3 linked regions of the Homo sapiens genome follow. The protein of the gene in region 1 interacts with the protein of each later gene in a biochemical or structural test. Each region holds a gene or a part of one and is shown in the gene's direction. Other genes may lie near its edges. The genes, in order: TES, VASP and ZYX.

What was found.
Region 2: the proteins of TES (region 1) and VASP form a complex in vitro, tested with the Homo sapiens proteins (one study listed by BioGRID).
Region 3: the proteins of TES (region 1) and ZYX form a complex in vitro, tested with the Homo sapiens proteins (one study listed by BioGRID).

Annotation. Positions count from the first base shown.
Region 1 is NC_000007.14:116,251,967-116,255,616, forward strand, and holds part of TES (testin), read left to right. Parts: coding exon 1-9; intron 10-351; coding exon 352-510; intron 511-3,151; exon of another isoform or gene 3,152-3,650. UniProt on the Homo sapiens protein: Scaffold protein that may play a role in cell adhesion, cell spreading and in the reorganization of the actin cytoskeleton. Plays a role in the regulation of cell proliferation. May act as a tumor suppressor. Inhibits tumor cell growth.
Region 2 is NC_000019.10:45,510,464-45,514,113, forward strand, and holds part of VASP (vasodilator-stimulated phosphoprotein), read left to right. Parts: intron 1-3,650. UniProt on the Homo sapiens protein: Ena/VASP proteins are actin-associated proteins involved in a range of processes dependent on cytoskeleton remodeling and cell polarity such as axon guidance, lamellipodial and filopodial dynamics, platelet activation and cell migration.
Region 3 is NC_000007.14:143,384,202-143,387,851, forward strand, and holds part of ZYX (zyxin), read left to right. Parts: exon of another isoform or gene 1-1,184; intron 1,185-3,650. UniProt on the Homo sapiens protein: Adhesion plaque protein. Binds alpha-actinin and the CRP protein. Important for targeting TES and ENA/VASP family members to focal adhesions and for the formation of actin-rich structures.

The DNA of each region.
Region 1 (3,650 bases):
TGTGACGAGGTATGTTCTATGGGACCACCGGCATGCTGGTGCCCTCTTAGACCCTCATATGGTCCCTTTACCTAGAAGGCAACAAGACTTGACCAAACAGCAGTTGCTCTGTTTACATCCAAAGAAGTTTTAAAAAATAAACTTCTGATATCATTCATTCTGTCTGTGTTAATTGGGTTGACAAATGAAAGACTAGAAATATAAAAGATTGATTTAGACTAAACTAAGTGATAGCATAAGTTCAAGCTTTAGGTTATCATTTTCAAACTTTAGACCCTGAGAAAGTATGTTGTTACAGATATAAATCTCTTATTATATAAAAATCCATCTTTATTTTTATCTTCTTCCTAGCTGATATTCAGCAATGAGTATACCCAGGCAGAAAACCAGAATTGGCACCTGAAACACTTCTGCTGCTTTGACTGTGATAGCATTCTAGCTGGGGAGATATACGTGATGGTCAATGACAAGCCCGTGTGCAAGCCCTGCTATGTGAAGAATCACGCTGTGGTGAGAAGTGTTCTAAGGATATGGTTGCCTCAGCCTGCTTTAGGACTTGAGTTTATGCTTTTCTTAAAGCCTCTTACAAATGGGAAACAGAAAGCAGTCCTCCTAAGTAGAAAGCAAATTATTCCTACCACAGGGTGTTAAAATCAAGGCAATTCAAAAACAATACATGCATTGACTATGAGCCACCTCAAGATTTCTACTTGTGAAATTTACAATATCAATTATAGGTACTGCTTAATAATAAAATCCTCACTTAAAAAAATTCTTAATGGGAATGAGATTGTTTTATTTTCATGGTTAGCAATCAGATTCCATTTCAATAAAGGTGTCTAGGGGCTATTGATATTCTTTAGCTCTATTTGAATATGATGCTTTCTGTTTGTGTTATTGGACCACCCACTGGAATTTTGTTTTTGCTACCTGGAGATTGTAAGATACCTATTTCTTAAACCCTCATTGAATTGATTTAGCATAACAAAACTTGGCCTGCGTATTTAGATTTTTGTGTGGGCCAAACATTCCAATGTGAAAGTATATTTTTTCTTGCATTTACTCTGCTTACACAGAGCTGCTGTTGTATAATGGCCAAGTGATGGTAATGTAGATAAAGGGTAAAAAGTTGACCATAGATGGTAAAGTGTATAATCCAGGAGTATCCAAATAGACATTTACTTCTTTATATGCAGCAAAACACATATGTGTTAATGGTCCCCTGAGCTATCAAGTAAAAGGGACTCCTGGCTAAGGAATGAAATTACATATGGTTTATATAGTTATATATAGTTATAAGAGTGTGGTACTGTGAAGATAAGGTAACAAGTTTTTATGTCAATGCCAATTTTCAGCGTTCACCCATTGCCCCAGATACAGTTATTCATTCTCTATCAACTGTGCCTCACCAATATATTTCACATTCTTATAATTACAACCATTCTACTTTAGACCTTTTTTTTTGTTGTTATTTTGACTATTGCAGTGGCCTCAAATTTCGTTCCTCCACTTTCATTCATCTTGCTCAAAAGCTACCCACCATAATGATGGAAAATTATCTTCCTAAAATGCAAATTATTAAACTTTTGATAGATCTGGCCCCTTCTTGCCTCTCCTGTCCCTTCTACTAGTTATCCAACGCAAATCATACATTTCCACACGTTCACCATCATTTTCTAGTTTACACACTGTTGTCTTTTGCTTACTCCTAATAGTTTTTCTAATACACCGTACTTTTCCCTGTTTTACCTGACTGTACCTACACATTTATTCCTTTAGATTCAGTTTAGGTTTAACTTTTTTTCGGAACACCTTTCCTGATTCACTATGCCCAAACTCCACCATTTCCTCCAGACTCTCCATGTTCCCAATGGTGTGTGTGTGGGTGGGTGTGTGGGGGTGTGTGTGTGTGTGAATATCATTCATCTGTCTCCTTCACTAGACTGTAAGCAGCTGGAGGGTAGAGCTTGCCTTATATCTTGCTTTCTATATCTTCAGTGTCAGCACTTAGAAAATGTTTGAGTGACTGACTCGTGTTCTTAATATTTCTCGCTTTGGGGTTACCATGGTCATTCCTTTACCTAGGGAACAAGACGTCAAATCACCATGTAACCTGATACATTATTTAGCTAAAAACTGCTTCAATGAATATTGTTGCAACAGTTTTTCTACAGACTAAAGGTATTATAATGTATACCTTTTTTTTTGCTGCTGTCTGACCTTTAGTCTCAAGGACTAGAATGTAACTCCATCAGGGCAGGGATTTTTTTATCTGCCTTTTCTATTCTGTTCCCAACACTAGGACAACATAGGTGCTCAATAAAAATTTATTGAAACAGATGAAACTGCTTTTTTTTCTTTTTTTAGCTGTTACAAGCTTCTCTGTATTACATTGTTTCTAATCAATGGCAGGGTATAACCACAGATATGATTTGTTTAAATAAAAGAATTTTCAAATTATTTAGTTTTATAGCATAGCATCATTTTGGCCAGGCATGGTGGCTCACGCCTGTAATCCCAGCACTTTGGGAGGCCAAGGTGGGCGAATCATGAGGTCAGGAGTTCGAGACCAGCCTGGCCAACATGGTGAAACCCCGTCTCTATTAAAAATACAAAAAAATTAGCTGGGCGTGGTGGCAGGTGCCTGTAATTCCAGCTACTTGGGAGGCTGAGGCAGGAGAATTGCTTGAACCTGGGAGGTGGAGGTTGCAATGAGCCGAGATCCTGCCACTGCACCCCAAGCCCAGGTGATTGATAGTGCGACACTCCGTCTCAAAAAAAATATATATATATGTGTGTGTGTGTGTGTGTGTGTGTGTGTGTGTGTGTGTAGCATCATTTCTTTTATGTTTACTTTCTCAGTGGGATATACCATTGGCCTTTGCCTAATATTAAAATGAGCATACATATCCATTGCCAGAACAGATTCCAGCTAACAGCAAAGAGAGCTACCCACACAGCATGCTACATTATATAAAATTTGGAGAAGGTTATCTAGTTCAGGGCATTGATCTGCTTAGATCTTTTCATCTTAAAGAGAGAAAATACAAATTATTTTTAGACCTGAAATCAAGTGCTCAACTCCAAACAACATTTCTGAGAAAAAAAAAAAAAAGTACCTGGAAGGAAAAAACATGGCAGATGCACCTACTTTGTCTCTGTGTAGTCACTAGAACTCCATAGTTACCCCCAGAATTCACATCCGTCAGATTCATAGGACACTCCTGCAGAGAGCTCATTACAACAGGTGTCATTAGCTCTTTTACATCCTGTGTACAAATAAGAAGAGGGATTGAAGGAAATAAGAATTCTTTGAAATATTAAAGGTTTAGGAACATGGGAAGATCAAATGGCAGGCAGGAAGTGGTGAAGCACATCATCTCCCTGAAGGGTTCTGCAGTCCCCAGGCCCTTGGCGCAGCCTGGGCCAATTTTAGATTTTTGAGGAATTAGGGAACAGTAGATTCGACCTGTGATTACATGTCAGATTTTGAATGAATGGTAATCAAATTATTAGTAAAATGAAATTTTATGAAACCCCAGACTTTAATTCTCTATACCATTTATGTGTACTAATTATCTTTTTGCTTAATTTTCTTAATTTCATGTGTAATTGAACATTAGTTATCTCTTTTTTGTAAATTGCAACTG
Region 2 (3,650 bases), on another chromosome or scaffold:
GATCCACCCGCCTCGACCTCCTAAAGTGTTATTATTACAGACGTCAGCCACCACACCTGGCCCCTCATGGCAGTTCGAACAATGATACTATTACAACCTTGTGGCCTCCCCACCCCGGTACTCAGTTTATAGATGGGGAAACTGAGGCACAGGAAAGTTAGGCAAGGTGCCTATTAAACTCAAACAGGGCCAGGCGCCGGGGCTCATGCCTGTAATCCTAACACTTTGGGAGGCCAAGGCAGAAGGATCGCTTGAGCCCAGGAGTTTGAGAACAGCCTGGGCAATATGGTGTAACCCCGTCTCTACAAAATATACAAAAATTAGCTGGGTGTGGTGGCATGCGCCTGTAGTTCCAGCTACTCTGGAGGCTGAGGCGAGAGGATCGTTTGAGCTGGGGAGGTTGAGGCCGCAATGAGTCATATTCTTGCCACTGCACTCCAGCCTGGGTGACAAAGTGAGACCCTGTCTCAAAAAAAAAAAAAAAATAGAGATAACATGCTTTCCGTGTTCTTAATGAAGAAAAAGAAAAAAAAAAAGGAACGTGCTTTCACTGTGAAAACTCTTAAGATAATTCAGATAAGCCAAATGAAACCGAAGCTGCAACATTTATCTTCCTATTCACTTATGGGAAACTGAGGCCCACCAGGAGGAAGGGACTAGAGTAGCCCCATCCCCGACAAAAGAAGATTTGTCGTTTGGAAGGGTGGTGTATATGTATCATAGGTTTTATGGTATAAGGAGGGTATGGGCTAAGTCTTGGGTTCAGGGGACAGTGAAGGGAAGGGTAAGACTGCAAGTTTTGTGAAAACCGGATTCACCATGCTTGATTACCTCTGGTGATGGGAAGCTCTCTCCTTCATGTGGAGCGTGTACCAAGTTACAGTTCCTGCGTTTAGGGCTTTTTGTCCATTATCTCTTTTAATCCTTACAATGAACCCAGTGAGTTATTGTTTCCAGGGCTGGAAACTGAGTTTCAGAGAGGCAAAGCCACACAACAAGGAGGCAACTTGAACCGTCTTTTCATCCGCCATGTGCTAGAGTTTTCCAAAATGTGGGGACTTGCAGGGAGGAGTGGGTCCTGGGCTGGCTGGAAAATTAAAGTGTTCTCATGTCCAATGGAGGGTTCTAGACTTCGGGAAAACACACTGGAAATGGGCAGAACTCCTTTCCATCTCACAGCCCCCGCACCCCCGTTTTATGGCTATGGGATTTTCGTTCTGGCTTTTGTGTAGTTTACAGTTTTATTTATTGAACTTAAGTAGTGAGTTAGGTTTTTATAGGTAATTTCAACCCATGATAAGAAAACAAATAATAAGCAGTTTGAAATACTTACTGAAATTATTGAAATGGTGGCTGGGCCTGGTGGCTTATGCCTGTAATCCCAGCACTTTGGGAGGTCGAGGCAGGCAGATCACCTGAGGTCAGGAGTTTGAGGCCAGCCTGGCCAATGTGGCAAACGCCCAAACCCCATCTCTACTGAAAATAGAAACATTAGCCTGGCGTGGTGGCACACGTTTGTAATCCCGGACACTCAGAAGGCTGAGGCAGGAGAATCGCTTGAACTCGGGAAGTGGAGGCTGGGAGGCTGAGGCAGGAGAATTGCTTGAACCTGGGAGGTGGAGGCTGCAGTAAGCTGAGATTACACCACTGCCAGCCTGGGTGCAGAGTGAGAGACTCTGTCTCAAAAGATAAATGGTACAAAATATTTGTTTCTTCCCTCCCCAGTTCCTGAGTTCCCCTCAATGGAGGCAGCCACAGTTAGTGTCTTGGGAAACAGTCTCTGCATATATCACCACTCTGAGTGCAGATATATTTATATATGCTCCTCACTGTTTTTTTTTTTGAGATGGAGTCTTGCTCTGTCGCCCAGGCTGGAGTGCAGTGGCGCGATCTCAGCTCACTGCAACCTCCACCTCCCAGGTTCAAGCAATTCTCCTGCCTCACCTCCTGAGTAGCTGGAATTACAGGCACGCGCCACCACGCCCAGCAAATTTTTCTATTTTTAGTAGAGACAGGGTTTCACCATGTTGGTCAGGCTGGTCTCAAACTCCTGACATCAAGAGGTCCGCCTGCTTCGGCCTCCCAAAGTGCTGGGATTACAGGCTTGAGCCACTGCGCCTAGCCTACCTTTTTTGTTTGTTTGTTTTTGTTTTTGAGACGGAGTCTTGCTCTGTCCCCCAGGCTGGGGTGCAGTGGCGTGATCTTGGCTCACTGCAACCTCCGCCTCCTGGGTTCACGTGATTCTCCTGCCTCAGCCTCCCAAGTAGCTGGGATTACAGGCGCCCGCCACCACGCCTGGCTAATTTTTTGTATTTTTAGTAGAGACGGGGTTTCGCTATGTTGCCCAGACTGGTCTCAAACTCCTGACCTTGTGATCCGCCTGCCTTGGCCTCCCAAAGTGCTGGGATTACAGGCATGAGCCACCGCACCCGACCTTTTTTTTGGTTTTGTAAAGCCTCTGATCAACACTACCTTGTACTTTGGCTTTTAAAAATTTCAATTTAGCTCTGCTTCTTCATCTTTAAATGAAGTTAAGAACTTGTGGGAACTTCGTTTCAACTATGAGCCCCTCTGCTTACTTGCTGTGTGATCTGGGGCAAGTGCCTTCACTCCTCTGTGCCTGCAATTCCCCCTTGTCAAAAGGGTGAGCGTCAGAGCCTATCCCATGAGGTTGTAGAGTCATGCAGCAGGGAAATTGGTGTCAAGCACCAAGAAGAGTGTCTGGGACCCAGGCTGACTGAGAAATGTTAGGTGTCCTAGGTAAAAGTTTGCCTTTTTTTGTGAGGGAGTCTTGCTCTGTGAGGGAGTCTTGCTCTGTTGCCCAGGCTGGAGTGCAAGTGACCTGAACAAGGCTCACTGCAGCCTCATCCTCTTGGACTCAAGTGATCCTCCTGCCTCACCCTCCTGAGTAGCTGGGACTACAGGCAAGCGCCACCACACCCAGCTAATTTTAAAGTTTTTTGTACAGACGGAGGTCACCATCTTGCCCAAGCTAGTCTCTCTCCTTTTTTTTTTTTTTTTTTTTTGAGACAGAGTCTCGCTCTGTCTCCCAGACTGGAGTGCAGTGGTCTGAGATCGGCTCACTGCAACTGCCTCCTGGGTTCAGTGATTCCCCTGCCTCAGCCTCCTGGGTAGCTGGGATTACAGGCATGAGCCACCATGCCTGGCTAATTTTTGTATTTTTAGTAGGCATAGGGTTTCACCATGTTGGCCAGGCTGGTGTCGAACTCTTGACCTCAAGAGATCCACCTGCTTTGGCCTCCCAAAGTTCTGGGATTACAGGCATAAGCCACCACACCCAGCCTTCCCAAGCCAATCTCAAACTCTTGGGCTCAAGTGATCCTCCTGCCTCAGCCTCCCAAAGTGCTGGGATTACAGGCGTGAGCCACCTCCCCTGGCCAAAGTTTGCCTTTTTTTACAGATGTTTCGTAACTATTGAGTCCCTACTATGTGTTGGACGCCATTCTAGGTTCTGGGGACACAGCAGTGAACAACTGGGACACAAATTTCTGCCTTTTTGGCAGCGGAGACAGACAAATATTGTGTTGGGCAGGGGTCACTGCTATGAAATGTGCAGCAGGGGATGAAAAGGAGAGAAGCGTTTCCAGCTAAGGGAGTGAGGGACGGCTTCTTGGAAGGGGTGACATCTA
Region 3 (3,650 bases), about 27 Mb from region 1:
GCATAGGAAGAAATGCCAAGGGCCAGTGAGCTTTGCAGAATCCTGTGAGTCACAGGCACTCAGACCAGGGAGTCAACTCGGGGAGTCAAATTAGGAAAGGCTTCGAAGGATGGGCAGGACGTAAGAATCCAGAGAGGAGAGGGATGTTTGGAGAACAGAAAGTGGAAGGTTCCTGTAGGAAAATGATAGAGCTATACTTGGAGAGGCAAGCGGGGCTGGAGGGTGTAGGAGGTGAAGTGGCTCACCCAAGGAGCTCTTGAGCACTGGAGAGGCATTCATGATTTTTGAGTAGGTGTGGGGTGGGTCAGGAGGGCTGGTGAAAGCAGTGTTTTTGGAAGCTTTCTGGAAAGTTTCACCAGCAGAGATGTGTATTCGAGGGAGGTCAGTGATGGGTGTGAATTCACTCTTGGGCAATAGTAATGTTAGCTGCAATGAAAATTAAACCGTGCATGTGAGAGCTGTGTGCTAGAGCTGTTGGGAAGGCACAGCCTCCAGGACTTAGCAAGGGATGAGCAATTGGAAGACAAGGGTGAGGGGAAGAGGGAAAAAAAAGTCTCCAGCACGATTTGGAGATGGGGTGTGGGCGGATGGCAGGATTGCTGACAAAATAGAGAAGTCCAGAAGGGGAAATGGTTTGGACGGGAAGAGGAGGGGTCCAGCTGTCAACGTTTTGAGCAACAGGTCCCAGGAGGACTTTCAGCTGGGGCCGTCATTCAGCTAGAAATCCAGGGCTAGGTTTCAGGAGAGGGCCAGAGATGTCTAGCATGGTAGTGGGGCACAGTGACACTGTGACGCTGGAGGGTCAGGGTCGGAGCGGAGGAGCTTCCCAGGGAGTGCAGACAGCGGGGACCAGGAGGTGCGGGAAGAAGAGTCAGGAGGAGAGTCAGGGTGCACTTGGAGAAGAGAGCTGAGCTCCTCAGTGGGGTATTTGAGGGAGTGAGGACTCAAGGCTAGAGATTAGACTGTTGGGAAATCATCAGCGGTCTTGGGATGGCCTGTTTGTGCCCTGTGGTGGGAACACAATGTGAGGAGTTGAGGAGAGAGTGGGTGGTGAGAAGTGGGGCTGCTGGTGTAGCCTGGTCTTAAAGGACTAAGGGAAGGACTGTGTGTCAGTGGTGTGTGTGTGTGTATATATACACATATGTGAATATATGAGTGGCGTGTGTGTGTGTGTTAGTGTGTGGGTGTGGGTATGGTGTATGTGAGTGTATGTGCATGTGTGAGCATGAATGTATGAGTGGCGTGTGATGTGTGTAGTGTGATTGTGTGAAAGTATGTGTATATGAGTACATGTGTGCATGTGTGAGTGAAGGTGTGTGCATGTGTGAGTGTGGCTGTGATGTGTATGGTGTGTGATTGCACAAGTGAAGGTGCACATACATACTTTCTTACAAATACACACAAGTGGCGTATGTGTATATATGTGAGTGGTGTGTGTGAGCGTGTGGTGTGGTATATCTTTTTTTTTTTTTTTTTTTTTTTTTTGGAGACGGAGTGCAGGCTGTCGCCCATGCTTACTACAACCTCCGCCCCCCTGGCTCAAACGATTCTCCTGTCTCAGCCTCCCAAGTAGCTGGGATTACAGGCACGTTCCACCACACCTGGCTAATTTTTGTATTTTTTAGTAGAGATGGGGTTTCACCATGTTGGCTAGGCTGGTCTCGAACTCCTGACCTCAAGTGATCTGCCTGCCTCAGCCTCCCAAAGTGTTGGGATTACAGGTGTGAGCCACCGCGCCTGGCCTGGTGTGGTATTATCTGAATGTGAGTGGTGTGTGTGTGTGTGGTATGGTATATGTGTGAGTGTGTGTGTGTGGTGTGGTATATGTGTGAGTGTATGTGAGTGGTGTATGTGTGTGGTCTGGTATGTGTGTGTGCATGTGAGTGGTATGTGGGTATGTGTGAGGGTGTGTGTGTTTGAGTCTGTGGTGTAGCATATGTGGTTTTTGCAAGTTAGGGGAGAAGGGCTCAGGTACGTGTGTAACCCGGGGAAGCAGGTGATGGAGGGTGAGTGTTGTGGGAGAGCAGGGGCAGGCTGCTTCGGTCCCTGGAGGAGATCTTGGTGATGTCTCCTCCCCCAGAGGCATACCAGACAGCAAGGACAGAGTGGTTGCAGCGTGGATAGGAAGGACGATGAGGGAGCTTAAGCTGGCTGGCTTCCATGTCCTCAACCATGTGGGAGGTGAGGTCACGGTGCGAGCAAAGGGACGAAGCAGGTGGGGGCTCAGGAGATGGAGAGGTCTGGAACGGCTGCTGTGGGGAAGGCTGGGCTGGAGGTCGCGCGGGTGCTGCAGTGTTGTGAGCTCACGCTGCAGTGTTCAGTGATCTCTCCACTGCTTTCTGCAGCTTGGAAGCAGAAACAGGAAGAGGGTGGTGGTGTGACTTGGGGTTGGAGACTGGGCCGGATAGCTGCGGGTGGCTGCAGGTGCCCGGAGGGACAGTGAACCCTGTAGGAGTTAGATGGTCATGGGACCAGGCTGGGGCATGGTGGACAAAGTCCAGGGGTGGGTTGCGGGTGGGGGCAACTAAGGCTTTTCTGGGTTCATGTAGTAGGTGTGGATGGGGAAGAGGAGAGGCAGATAATGGCTGGCAAGAGACTTGGAGGTAAATCTGAGGTCAAGGATGTCCCATGATGGATGATGACTGAGATGGACGGAAGTTTGGTTTGAAGCGGTGGCATTGGTGCAGGCTGGCAGAGGGGGCAGTTCTGGATAGAGTGTCCTGATGAATGGGGATACCCATGGGAGGTGATGCAGATGAGGATTCTGTGCTTCTGAAGGAGGAGCCAGGCATTTAGAATGGCACTGGAGAGCAAGGACTGACTGAGCCCCTTCACTGTGTCCCCAAGAGGCCAGGAAGGGAAGATTGGAGGAGACAAAGTTGAAGTGAGTGTTCCAGGGAACGAGTCAGTTAAGAGATGGTAGGATCTTAAGGGAAGATGGCTAAGATCTTAAGGGAAAATGGCTAAGATCTGGAGAGTTGGACTTATATGGACGCATGCTTCACTGGGCAGAAAGGACGCAACTCTGGGTACAGATGGGGGTCGGGGTGAGGGGCAGTGAAGCCAGGGCTGAGGGGAGAGGGGCTATGGGAGGAGGTAGCAGGGGGGCTTTGGAGGTTCCAGGTGTTATGGGAATGAAGGCATCTGCAGGTAGCACACTCAGTGATGGGGCCACAGTCCTGGGTAGGCTTTTCCAGACATAGAAAAGACCCACCCAGTGCACTTGCTCCTGTGGGCGTGTCTCCCGGCAGTGCTGATGCAGGTCAGACAGCCCTTCCCGGAGTTCTCAGGGTTACCTCTCAGGGTTACTGGCAGCGCTGTCCTTAACATCCACCCCCCACTCCAGTCCCCGGGATCCCCTAAATGGGAAGGTTGGGCTGGCCTAGGGGGTGGCCTTTGGACCTTCTCTGAGGCTGCTGGGGAGGGACCTGAGTGAGGTAGTTCAGAGGCCCCTCACTCGAGGGACAGGGTCTCTGTGTGGGGGTGGGGCTGGGTTCTTGCAGACAGCTCAGTGGGTTTAACCTGCAATTCCTGCCTGTGTTGTATCCTCACGCTGACAGGGGCTGCTCAGCAGCAGGCAGGCCGGGTAGGTGTGTGTGCGCGTGTGTGCACGCCATTGCGTGCCCCTGTCCCATGGGGGCGATGTCCGA